Homo sapiens: one gene and its partners. The protein of the gene in region 2 interacts with the protein of the main gene of each other region in a pairwise test. Each region holds a gene or a part of one and is shown on either strand. Other genes may lie near its edges.

Evidence for each region.
Region 1: the proteins of ZNF337 (region 2) and ATP5F1C interact in a two-hybrid assay, tested with the Homo sapiens proteins (one large-scale study listed by IntAct).
Region 3: the proteins of ZNF337 (region 2) and MTUS2 interact in binary tests that used the Homo sapiens proteins (3 or more experiments, as listed by UniProt).

What each region holds. Positions count from the first base shown.
Region 1 is NC_000010.11:7,805,056-7,808,335, reverse strand, and holds the end of ATP5F1C (ATP synthase F(1) complex subunit gamma, mitochondrial isoform L (liver) precursor), read right to left. Parts: intron 1,363-3,280; coding exon 1,356-1,362; 3' UTR 1,326-1,355; exon of another isoform or gene 1,320-1,325; intron 678-1,319; coding exon of another isoform or gene 674-677; 3' UTR 535-673; downstream 1-534.
Region 2 is NC_000020.11:25,672,814-25,676,468, forward strand, and holds the end of ZNF337 (zinc finger protein 337), read right to left. Parts: coding exon 2,219-3,655; 3' UTR 382-2,218; downstream 1-381. UniProt on the Homo sapiens protein: May be involved in transcriptional regulation.
Region 3 is NC_000013.11:29,026,205-29,029,859, reverse strand, and holds part of MTUS2 (microtubule-associated tumor suppressor candidate 2), read right to left. Parts: coding exon 2,957-3,655; intron 1-2,956. UniProt on the Homo sapiens protein: Binds microtubules. Together with MAPRE1 may target the microtubule depolymerase KIF2C to the plus-end of microtubules. May regulate the dynamics of microtubules at their growing distal tip.

The DNA of each region.
Region 1 (3,280 bases), on a different chromosome or scaffold from region 2:
AACAGAGTCTTACTCTGTTGCCCAGGCTGGAGTACAGTGGCGCGATCTCAGCTCACTGCAACCTCTGCCTCCCAGGTTTAACCGATTCTCCTGCCTCAGCCTCCTGAGTAGCTGGGATTACAAGTGTGCACCATTTTTGTATTTTGTTTTGTTTTTAGTAGAAACAGGGTTTCACCATGTTGGCCAGGCTAGTCTCAAATTCCTGACCTCCAGTGATCCACCTTGAGTCTCAGTCTCCCAAAGTGTTAGGACTGCAGGCATGAGCCACCGTGCCTGGTCTTGTTGACTGTTCTTTAAGGCTGTAATAAGGCACAGAACTGGGCTGAGGCTGTGGCTGCAGCCCTTTCCCTCTACGTTGTCCCCATAGAGGCTAGACATTTTAAGGTCAGTGGAGCACTACCAAATCAAAAGAGCCTCTTAAATTGTCTTCTACTAAAAAATTTTAATAGTAGCATATTAATATTTTTAAATGTTTTAGTATCATCTCATTTCAAAAACTATATCTATTGTTCTTATATATAAGAAAAACAATGATTTTATTTTAAGTTGTTTATTTTAAGATAATTTACAAATATCTTGCTGTCTTCAGTAATTCAAATAATGGAGGAACAGTTTCTTCGGACAAAGGCAGCAGTAAGCTAAAAACAAAATCAACTGGCTGAATTTTCCTTCTTTACCTGAAAAACAAAGTACAGAACAAGTAAGAAATCAAACAGCATTTTTTGGGAAAATAATGTCAAGAGATAATAATACATATTTAAGTGGGGTACAGAGAACTGAATTTACACAATAAAGTGTTACCCTATACCAGTGATTCTAAAATTTTGGTCTGGGGAACCTTTCATGGGGTTCATGAGGTCAAAACTATTTTCATGATAATGTTATTTTGCCTGTTATATTCTCATTCTCGAGTATACAGTAGAGTTTTCCAGAGGCCACATGATCCATGACATCACAACAAAATGAATAGAGACAGATGAAAATCTAGCTGGCTTCTGCTACATGAATCAGACATTAAGGGGTCCAGAGACCATAAAGTGTGACAACCACCACTCTTCACAACCTATATATAATATCTCAAAATAATGTTAATTCTCTATCCTCAAAGTTTATTTCCTTATATCTACATTTTCTATGATCAACACACTCACTACAAAAAAGTCCACTAGCGTTGCCCAGGTGCTCCCGTGAGTTGGCTGCTACTGTGAAGTGGCCCATCCATCTAAATCTCTCAGAGGACAATTCTAGGATTACTAAATTAGCTTAACTTATATCTGAATAGGTTTCTTTTCTGAACAGACATGGGAAGAATGTGTGAACTTTACCTCTTGTCTGAGGATGGAACTTGATTTTCATTAATCCCTGGTTATTATATTAGAAGAAAAAGACAAACACAAAACAAGCAGGTCAAGAAGCAATCCATGCTAGTTAATCACATATGCTTTCCAATGAAAAAAAGTCAATTGTTAAACTTGATACCTTGAGTACATCATGCAAAAATACTTACCACAAGATTCCTTTGAAACAGACTCAATGACTGTTATAAAAAGTCATAGATTTCAATCCAGGTTAGAAGCAATAAAAACATGCTCATGCAAGTAGGCAAGACTATGAATATGTAATTTAAATTACAATTTTTCTATAAATTAACACAATATATTTAGAGGTTTTTTTTTTTTTTGGAGATGGAGTCTTGTTCTGTTGCCCAGGCTGGAGTGCAGTGGCGTGATCTCAGCTCACTGCAACCTCCTCCTGGGTTCAAGTCATTCTCCTGCCTCAGCCTCCCGAGTAGCTGGGATTACAGGTGCCCGCCACCACGCCCAGCTAATTTTTGTACTTTTTTAGTAGAGACGGGGTTTTGCCATGTTGGCCAGGCTGGTCTGGAACTCCTGACCTCAGGTGATCCACCCGCCTCGGCCTCCCAAAGTGCTGGGATTACAGGCATGAGCCACTGCGCCTGGCCATATTTAGTTTTTAGGCTGGCAACTAATACTTGGACCTCGAATACTATGGTTTACTCATGTTCTTAATTATATTACTAAATAGCCAAATATGTTTATTTTGTTTTTTGATCTTTTTCTTTTCCAAGTATGTTTAAATATTCAAGTCTTGATTCAGAATAACTGATAGGTTACAGAGCATGCAAACCCATTCACAAGCAATCCAACCTTGGCACTGCATAGCTAAGTTTTTGTATAAGGATTTAGACTACCTTCCTAGGAAGCAAAAACTTAATACTCAATTTCCAATTATGTGGATTCCTTTTTCTAAATTCTTGGTTTTGTGCAGTGGCACGATCATAGCTCACCGCAGCCTAAAACTCCTGGGCTCAAGCAATCCTCCTGCCTCAATTTCCTGAGTAGCTAGGACAACAGGCACATGCCACCAGGCCTGGCTAATTTTTTCATTTTTGTAGAGATGGGGTCTTGCTATGTTGCTCAGGCTTGTCTTGAACTCCTGGGCTCAAGCAATCCACTCGCTTCGGTCTCCCAAAATGCTGGGATTACAAGCATGAGCCAATGCACCCAGCTGTTTCTGTTACTTTTAAATAGGTTTCCTGCATTTCTTTTTTTTTTTTTTTTTTTTTTTGAGAAGGAGTCTTGCTCTTTTGCCCAGGCTGGAGTGCAGTGGCGCAATCTCGGCTCACTGCAAGCTCCGCCTCCCAGGTTCATGCCATTCTCCTGCCTCAGCCTCCATAGTAGCTGGGACTACAGGCGCCCACCACCACGCCCAGCTAATTTTTTGTATTTTTAGTAGAGACGGGGTTTCACCGAGTTAGCCAGGATGGTCTCAATCTCCTGACCTTGTGATCCGCCCACCTCTGCCTCCCAAAGTGCTGAGATTACAGGCGTCAGCCCCTGCGCCCGGCCAGGTTTCCTGCATTTCTAATGAAGAAATAGGCTGGTCCTCAATTTTGCAGAAGTTGTATCATCATAGGTCATACCTAACATTCGTTTGTCAAGAGCAAAAAAACCCCCTTGGGTTCTCTGGATCTCACACAGCCCACAAACCTTCAGAATGTGGTTCCTTCCCGCAGGCTTTGTCACACTTAAGATCCAAGAACAAATCAGCCTGGCTTTAACATGGGGTAGATGGCAAGAAGGATAATGGCTAATAGAAGGTTTTAGTCCTTGTATTAGTCCCCATGTTACAGATGACAAAGCTGAGTAACAGAGAGAGTATCCTAACCAAGTTCATCAAGCTAGACACCATGAGACAGTATTCTGTGATGCTGATAGAACATTGGTGACCAGGCTGTGAATGGGTTAGTCCTAACACA
Region 2 (3,655 bases):
GCTGGTCTTGAATTCCTACACTCAAGCAATCCACCCAACTTGGCATCAGAAAGTGTTGGGATTATAGACGTGAACCACTGTGTCTAATGTCTAATTCAACTGTTTTACTTCACTTCTCCATATGCACATTCTACCAGTGCACTCTAACTTCAAGTTGAGTAAGAAACAGAGAAAGTAGCTATGAGTTGCCTTATGTTTCCAATCCCTTGTGTGTGATCATTTTCAACACAAGTGGTTGGCTAATAAGAGGAACTTGAGCAGGAAATGCGTTGACCGGGTTCCTTGGCTGTTTATGCTAAGACATTGTCTTCTGAGTTCAAATCAAATTCTGGGTCCAAATGGACAGTGGTGTCTCTTGGGGCTGTCAGTGTCCCAGATCACTCAGATGTAAATGTGTTTAATATGGAAGAGGAGCACAGAATTCTGGTGAACCCACAATGTGCAGTGAAACTCAAAATGAGTATGAGGAAAGTTATGGAAGTTGAAGGGCAAGCATCACAAATACCATTTACAAAAGGATAGGCATATTGCATGTATCTTCCCTGTGCTGGACAAGGGTTGTGTGCAGCTATGTAGGGCACATGCTCATTAAGCTGGCCTTAATTGTGAAGGTTCTGTGGTAATGAATGGTGGAAATGCTATTCCTAAGGAAGGATGGGCCATCTCTACACACCCAGATGGTCTGTGGCTGGGAGCATGGCAGAGGCAATCTTGGGCATCCATGGAGATGTTCCGGTGTCATTTTTCAGGATCCCAGATTTTCCTTACGAAGGGTCTGACCTCTACAAAATAGACATGCATTGGCTGAGCATTCCAACATCTGTAGAGCTCTGCTACAGGCCTTCAGCCCACATATTTGGGCAATAATTCTGCCTTCTATCCAAGAAGATAAAGGCCTTGTAAGCACTCACCAGGGAGTCCTGGTTTACTTAACCATTAACTGTTTGCTAATGGCTGAATGAAGTCTTCAATTTCTCAAGGTCCTTCTGCAGGTGGTAATGCAGATCGGCGATAATCAGTCTACTCTGCTCTTTGTAGGCACTTTCCCTACATTTTCAAAGGCCTGCATCATCACATCTGCCACAGCATTCTCTATCATTGAGGCATTTTCTCAGGAAATCACCTGTGAAATATTTTGCAGCTAACCACCTACCTGTGCCCCACCAGCCAACATGCTTTACTCCTGCCAGGCAGGTGAGTGGTCCCCAGATCCCTATTTTACCACTTGTTTTGTCAGACTGTTCTTGGTATCAGCTGTGTTGGAGGGAGTTCTCTGCAAAGACCAATATGGGACTGCATATACAGAGATTTTATTTCCAGATATGACTGTGAGAGAATGATGAGGGGAGCAGTTACTTAGTCTATTTGAGCTGTTATAATAAAATACCACTGACTAGGAAATGTATAAAGAGGACTTTATTTTCCCAGAGTTCTGGAGGCTGGGAAGTTCAACATCAAAACATCAGTAGGTGCAGTTGTCTGTTGAGGGCTCATGTCTGTTTCCAAGATGATGCCTTCATGCTGCATCTTTTGGAAGGGAGGAGCATTGTGTCCTCACAGAGCAGAAAATAGAAGGGCCACAGGACAAACTCCCTCTATCAAGCCTTTTCATAAGGGCACCTGATCCCATTCGCAAAGCTCTATCTTCGTGACTTGACTTAATCACTTCCCAAAGGTCCCACCTCCTAATACTTACACTGTTTCAACAGTAAACAGTTTATGTAGAGTTTCAACATAAATTAAGGAGGGGACAAAACATCCAAACCAAGGAAGGCTGGGAGGGAAGCCAGAGGGAAAGTGCAAGAGGAGGTTTGGTGGAGGTGTCCTAGATTGTTTGCAGTCCAAGGAGGTTGGGGAGAGTGTAACAGGCCTGCCTTGGTATCCCTGCTCTGCAGTCACTGGCTAAGAGCAGTCCTTAGAAAGCACAGCCTGGCACAAATACAACAAGAATATGTGCTCAGTAGGAAAGAGACCACATTTCCCCAATAGCCCAGGTAATGCCCTCCCCTCAACTGGCATCTCTGTTCCCTAAACATTGACCTCTTTTCTCTGAATCTCTTGGGGACACATGGGTTGAATTCAGGTTCTCTGTAGCCCTCTGGATTCTGTCTGCCTCTGTTATATCTTCACGAACAAGTTATGCAGCCTCAACTAAAGCTTGTAACAAAGCAAAGTTACTCTCCTGAGTGTGTCCTCTGATGGATGGTGAGATATAACTTCAAGATGAAGCCTCACCCACACTCCCTGTACAAAAACGCTTCTCACGTAAGTGTCTCTTTAAGTGCTTACTGTAGTATGACTTATTGCTAAACTTTCGTCCACACTCTTGGCATTCATAAGGCCTCTCTCCTGTGTGTATTCTTTCATGCACAGTGAGGTCTGACTTACTGGTATAGCCTCGCTTACACTCCTGGCAAACAAAAGGCTTCTCCTTTGAGTGTATCCGCCAGTGGTGTCTGGTGAGACTTCTCTTCCAGCTGAAGCCTTGCCCACACACATTACACACGAAGGGCTTCTCCCCTGAGTGTGTCCTCTGGTGTGTGAGGAGATTTCCCTTCCAGTTGAAGCCTCGCCCACACTCCTTGCATACAAAAGGCTGCTTGCCAGAATGTGCAAGCTGGTGTTTCACAAGATTTGACTTCCAGATAAATCCTTGCCCACATTCACTACAGATGAAAGGCTTCTCCCCTGAGTGTGTCTTCTGGTGGAAGAGGAGAGTTGATTTTAGGATGAAGCCTCGCCCGCAATCCTTGCAATTAAATGGCCTTTCCCCCGAGTGTGTCCACTGATGTCTAAGAAGATTTGCCTTCAAACTAAAACTTTTCTCACACTGCTTGCACATGAAGGGCTTCTCTCCTGAGTGTGTCCTCTGATGTATGGTGAGATTTGGCTTCAAGGTAAAGCCTCGCCCACAATCCCTGCAGAAAAAACGTTTCTCACCCAAGTGTGCCCTCAGGTGCTTGTTATAGGAGGACTTATCCCGAAACCTTCGCCCACACTCCCGACATCCATAAGGCTTCTCCTCTGAGTGTGTCCTCTGGTGTAAAGTGAAGGTTGACTTTTGGATAAAGCCTCGTCCACAGTCCTTGCACACAAAAGGCTTCTCCTCTGAGTGTGTGATCTGATGTTTCACAAGGGTTGACTTCTGAATAAATCCTTGCCCACATTCTCTACAAACAAAAGGTTTCTCCCCTGAGTGTGTTCTCTGGTGGTAGACAAGAGTTGACTTTTGGCTAAAGCTTCGCTCACAATCCTTGCACACAAAAGGCTTCTCCCCTGAGTGTGTTCTCTGGTGTCTGAGGAGACTTCCTTTCACGCTAAAACTTTGCTTACACTGCCTGCACGCAAAGGGCTTCTCCCCTGAGTGTGTCCTCTGGTGTGTGATAAGGTGTGACTTATTGCTAAAGCCTCGGCCACACTCCTGGCATCTGTAAGGCTTCTCTCCTGAGTGTATTCTCTTGTGCACAACGAAGTATGACTTATTAGTATAGCCTCGCCCACACTCCTTGCACACAAAAGGCTTCTCCCCTGAATGCGCCTTCAAGTGCTTGTTGTATGAGGACTTATCGTTAAACCTTCGCCCACACTCCTGGCATTCATAAGGCTTCTCTCCTGTGTGTGTTCTCTCATGCACAGTGAGGTATGACTTACTGGT
Region 3 (3,655 bases), on a different chromosome or scaffold from region 2:
CCCTCCTTTTGGTAATGAGCAAGTTCTTGCTCTATTAGTTCCCATGAGAGCTGGTCCTTAAAGAGAGGCCTGGCACCTCCTCCACTCCCCTCTTGCTCATCTCTCACCACGTGATCAATGCACACGTGGTTCCCCTTCTTCTTCCCCCTTGAGTGGAAGCAGCCTGAGGCCTCACCATAGGCAGATGCTGGTGCCATGCTTCCTCTCCAGCCTGCAGAACCATGAGCCAAATAAACCTCTTTTCCTTATAATTTACCCAGCCTCAGGTATTCTTTCATAGCAACACAAATGGACTGACAGGTCTCTTCATGGAACCTCTGCAGTGATTCCCTGCCTTATAGAAGAGCAAAGCTTCAGAGCCTGACCCTGAGCCTCAGAGGCCCAGGTGGATGAATGTTTAGAAATTTGAAAATGACTCACTATAACTAAACTCAGAGACTGACGTAAAAATCCAGAAGGGCAATTTGTTCACTTTTAATTGGAGACCACTGCCTAAAGCCAGACTCAAGTGTCCTCTAGCCAGAACACGTTCTCATTGCAGGGCACAGAGTAAGAAGCCACTTATAAACAAGATGCCATGCAGCCCCGCACAGCAAGACAAACCCCTGCCAAGCTGACTGGACCCCTGAATTCTCCAGCCAGAATCCTCTCTCTAGAGATGTGAGGTAGGAAGTCCGTTATAATCAGAGGCCTGTTGGCAGGCCCAGAGTCAGAACACAGGGAGCAAGCTGTGTGATTTGGTTGCTAAGGACCTGCGGCAAGGCAGCACAGCTGGTCGGCTTGTTGGGGCACCTCGTCAGTGATTGCCTAAGTCAATGTCTGCTGCCGAGAATGGATTCAACTTTGTCTTTGTGCTAGATATGACAACTTCTGTTGTGATTGATGCATTCTTTAAATATGCCAATATATCTAACCAAGCTAGAGTCCAAATTTGGACTCAATCATCCTATCTCTAGAAACCCTTGGTACACTTTTGTTTAGTTCCAACACATATGGAGTTCATGATTCAGTTATCACTCAACATTTTTTGAGCACATACTTATAAGAAGCACCATTCTAAATTCTGGGAACACGGGGAACAAAATATTGAAAACAATCCCTTCCCTCATGGAGTTTACATTATAGTCAATTCAGGAAAACTAAAAAAGTATTTATGGCAGGTGGAGGTAGGTGCTAGGAAGAAATAAATCAGAGAAAAGGGATTCAGAGAGAAGATGGGTGGCCTTCCCAAGGAGATAACATTGGAACACAGACCTAAAGGGAGTGAGGGAGAGAGCCATCTGGATAACTGGGAGAACATTCCAAGCAGAGGGAGGTGCAAAGGTCCTGAAGCAGCAGAGTGAGAAAGGGAGAGTGGAAGGAGAGGAGGGCAGGTAGCTGACGGACCCCCAGTGAGCACATCCCATCCTAAAGGCAGAGCCATCCTACAGGCTCCAGCTTGTGTTCCAAGCAACCTGGGCAGCCCTGGAAGGTGTTAGAGACAGGATGATCTCATCCTGCCCTTGTTTTTGAGACTGAGTCGCGCTCTGTTGCCAGGCTGAAGTGCAGTGGCGTGGTCTCAGCTCACTGCAACCTCCACATCCTGGGTTCGAGCAATTCTCCTGCCTCAGCCTCCCCAGTTCCTGGGACTACAGGCACATGCCACCACACCCAGCTAGTTTTTGTATTTTTAGTAGAGACGGGGTTTCACCATGTTGGCCAGGATGGTCTCGATCTCCTGACCTTGTGATCTGCCCATCTCGGCTTCCCAAATGCTGGGATTACAGGTGTGAGCCGCTGTCCTTGGCTCCTGCCTTACTTTTAACTGATCACTCAGCTGTCATGAAGAGACTCCTTCAGGAGACAAATCTTAGTTCTGAGGTCTCGAAGGATGACTCACCATAGCTAAAAAGGACAGCACAGTGCAGTCTGAAACTGCACAGGCCTGAGTGAGACTCTCAGAGCTCTCCTTCCTTTGTGGTGGGTGACTTAAAGCTCTCTGTCTGTCTCTGTATCTATACGGTGATAAAAACTGCAATACCGGCTGGGCGCGGTGGCTCACGCCTGTAATCCCAGCACTTTGGGAGGCCGAGGTAGGCGGATCACGAGGTCAGGAGATCAAGACCACGGTGAAACCCCATCTCTACTAAAAATACAAAAAAGTAGCCAGGCGCGGTGGCGGGCGCCTGTAGTCCCAGGTACTAGGGAAGCTGAGGCAGGAGGATGGCGTGAACCCAGAAAGTGGAGTTTCCAGTGAGCCGAGATCGCGCCACTGCACTCAAGCCTGGGCGACAGAGCGAGACTTCATCTCAAAAACAAAGAAAAAGCCAAAAAAAACATAAACAAACAAAAAACTGCAATACCAACCCTCAGGGAATTACTGCAAGGATTAGTGAAGATTAACAAAGATCAAACGCTGTATTATATGGGCCCAGTGTAGAGCTGGCCCTCAATTATATGTTAGTTGTAATTATTACTTTTATTTTAAAGAAAGAGTCCATGCCTAACACACCGTTTTCTGCTCATTTGCTGTTCTTCACGCATGCGAATAAGAGATACTCCCAGGTAGAAAATACTCCCCATTGAGGAATGAGTCTGATCTATTTGAAGAACACAGTAATTTTGCATTCTTTCTTCCTTTAACCTGGCTTATATTATATTATATTCACTTATTTAAACATGGAAGCCTATTTAAGGCATACTCATCTAATTTCATATGAATTATAGCAAGTGAAATTTAAATGGGTCTCCTTAGATATTGGGTACATCTTATTAAGATAATCAGACTCTTCTAGTTAAAAATGGTCATTTCTCTAGACAATCTCCTCTAGTCAAAAACTCCATTTCTTCACAAGTGTATCCATGAAAATCTGTAATTCACTTAAAGAGGACATTTTACTTTCATAACTCATTGAAAATATGTCACAGATATTGGGACAGTCAACTTATAGACCATATCATAATGACATTCTCTTACCTCCTGCAAAAACTTTTCACTCATTTGACTGAAAGGATGTCCCGGGGGCTTGATTCCAGACACCATCAATCCGGAACTGAAGACCCTTGGCTTCTGCAGGTCTGGCTTGAATTTCTCATAGAGGTTGGCAGATGGCTTCAGGTCACCACCTGCTGCCTTCTCTTCGTGGGGAAGAGGCATGGTACATGTGGGCGGGGCATATGGAAGCCCCACTGGAACCAGCGAGGCGTCCACCTGGCCCAGGGCCTGGGGATTCCTCCTGATGTAGGTGATGATCTTGGGCCTCACATGCTTGGGCTTGGGCATAATGATGGGCTTAGTTTCTGTCCTCTCCTCTGTTTTTTCAACCTGATAGTTCTCCATTCCCTCCTGCGAGGAAGGTGTGTCCTTGGAATGTGTGAAGACAGGCTTGGGGATCCCACTGGGGCAAGTGTTCTTGTCAGGCACTTTGGGGGACGTGTTCAACAAGCGTGCACTATCAGTAGGGGGTGGAACTACCAAGGGGGACCCCGCATCCATACCGAACACGCTAACATCCTGAAAACTGCTACTGGGTGTTGTAGGCTGGTAGGTCATGTTCACAGTTGTCTCTGGGTGGAGGGGTGCTGGAATATTGAGAACTGAATCTGCTCTTGCTGAGGTGCTTTCAATCTTATCTGCATTCTCTAGAAGGTTCCTGTTTTCAGCAACAGATGTGGT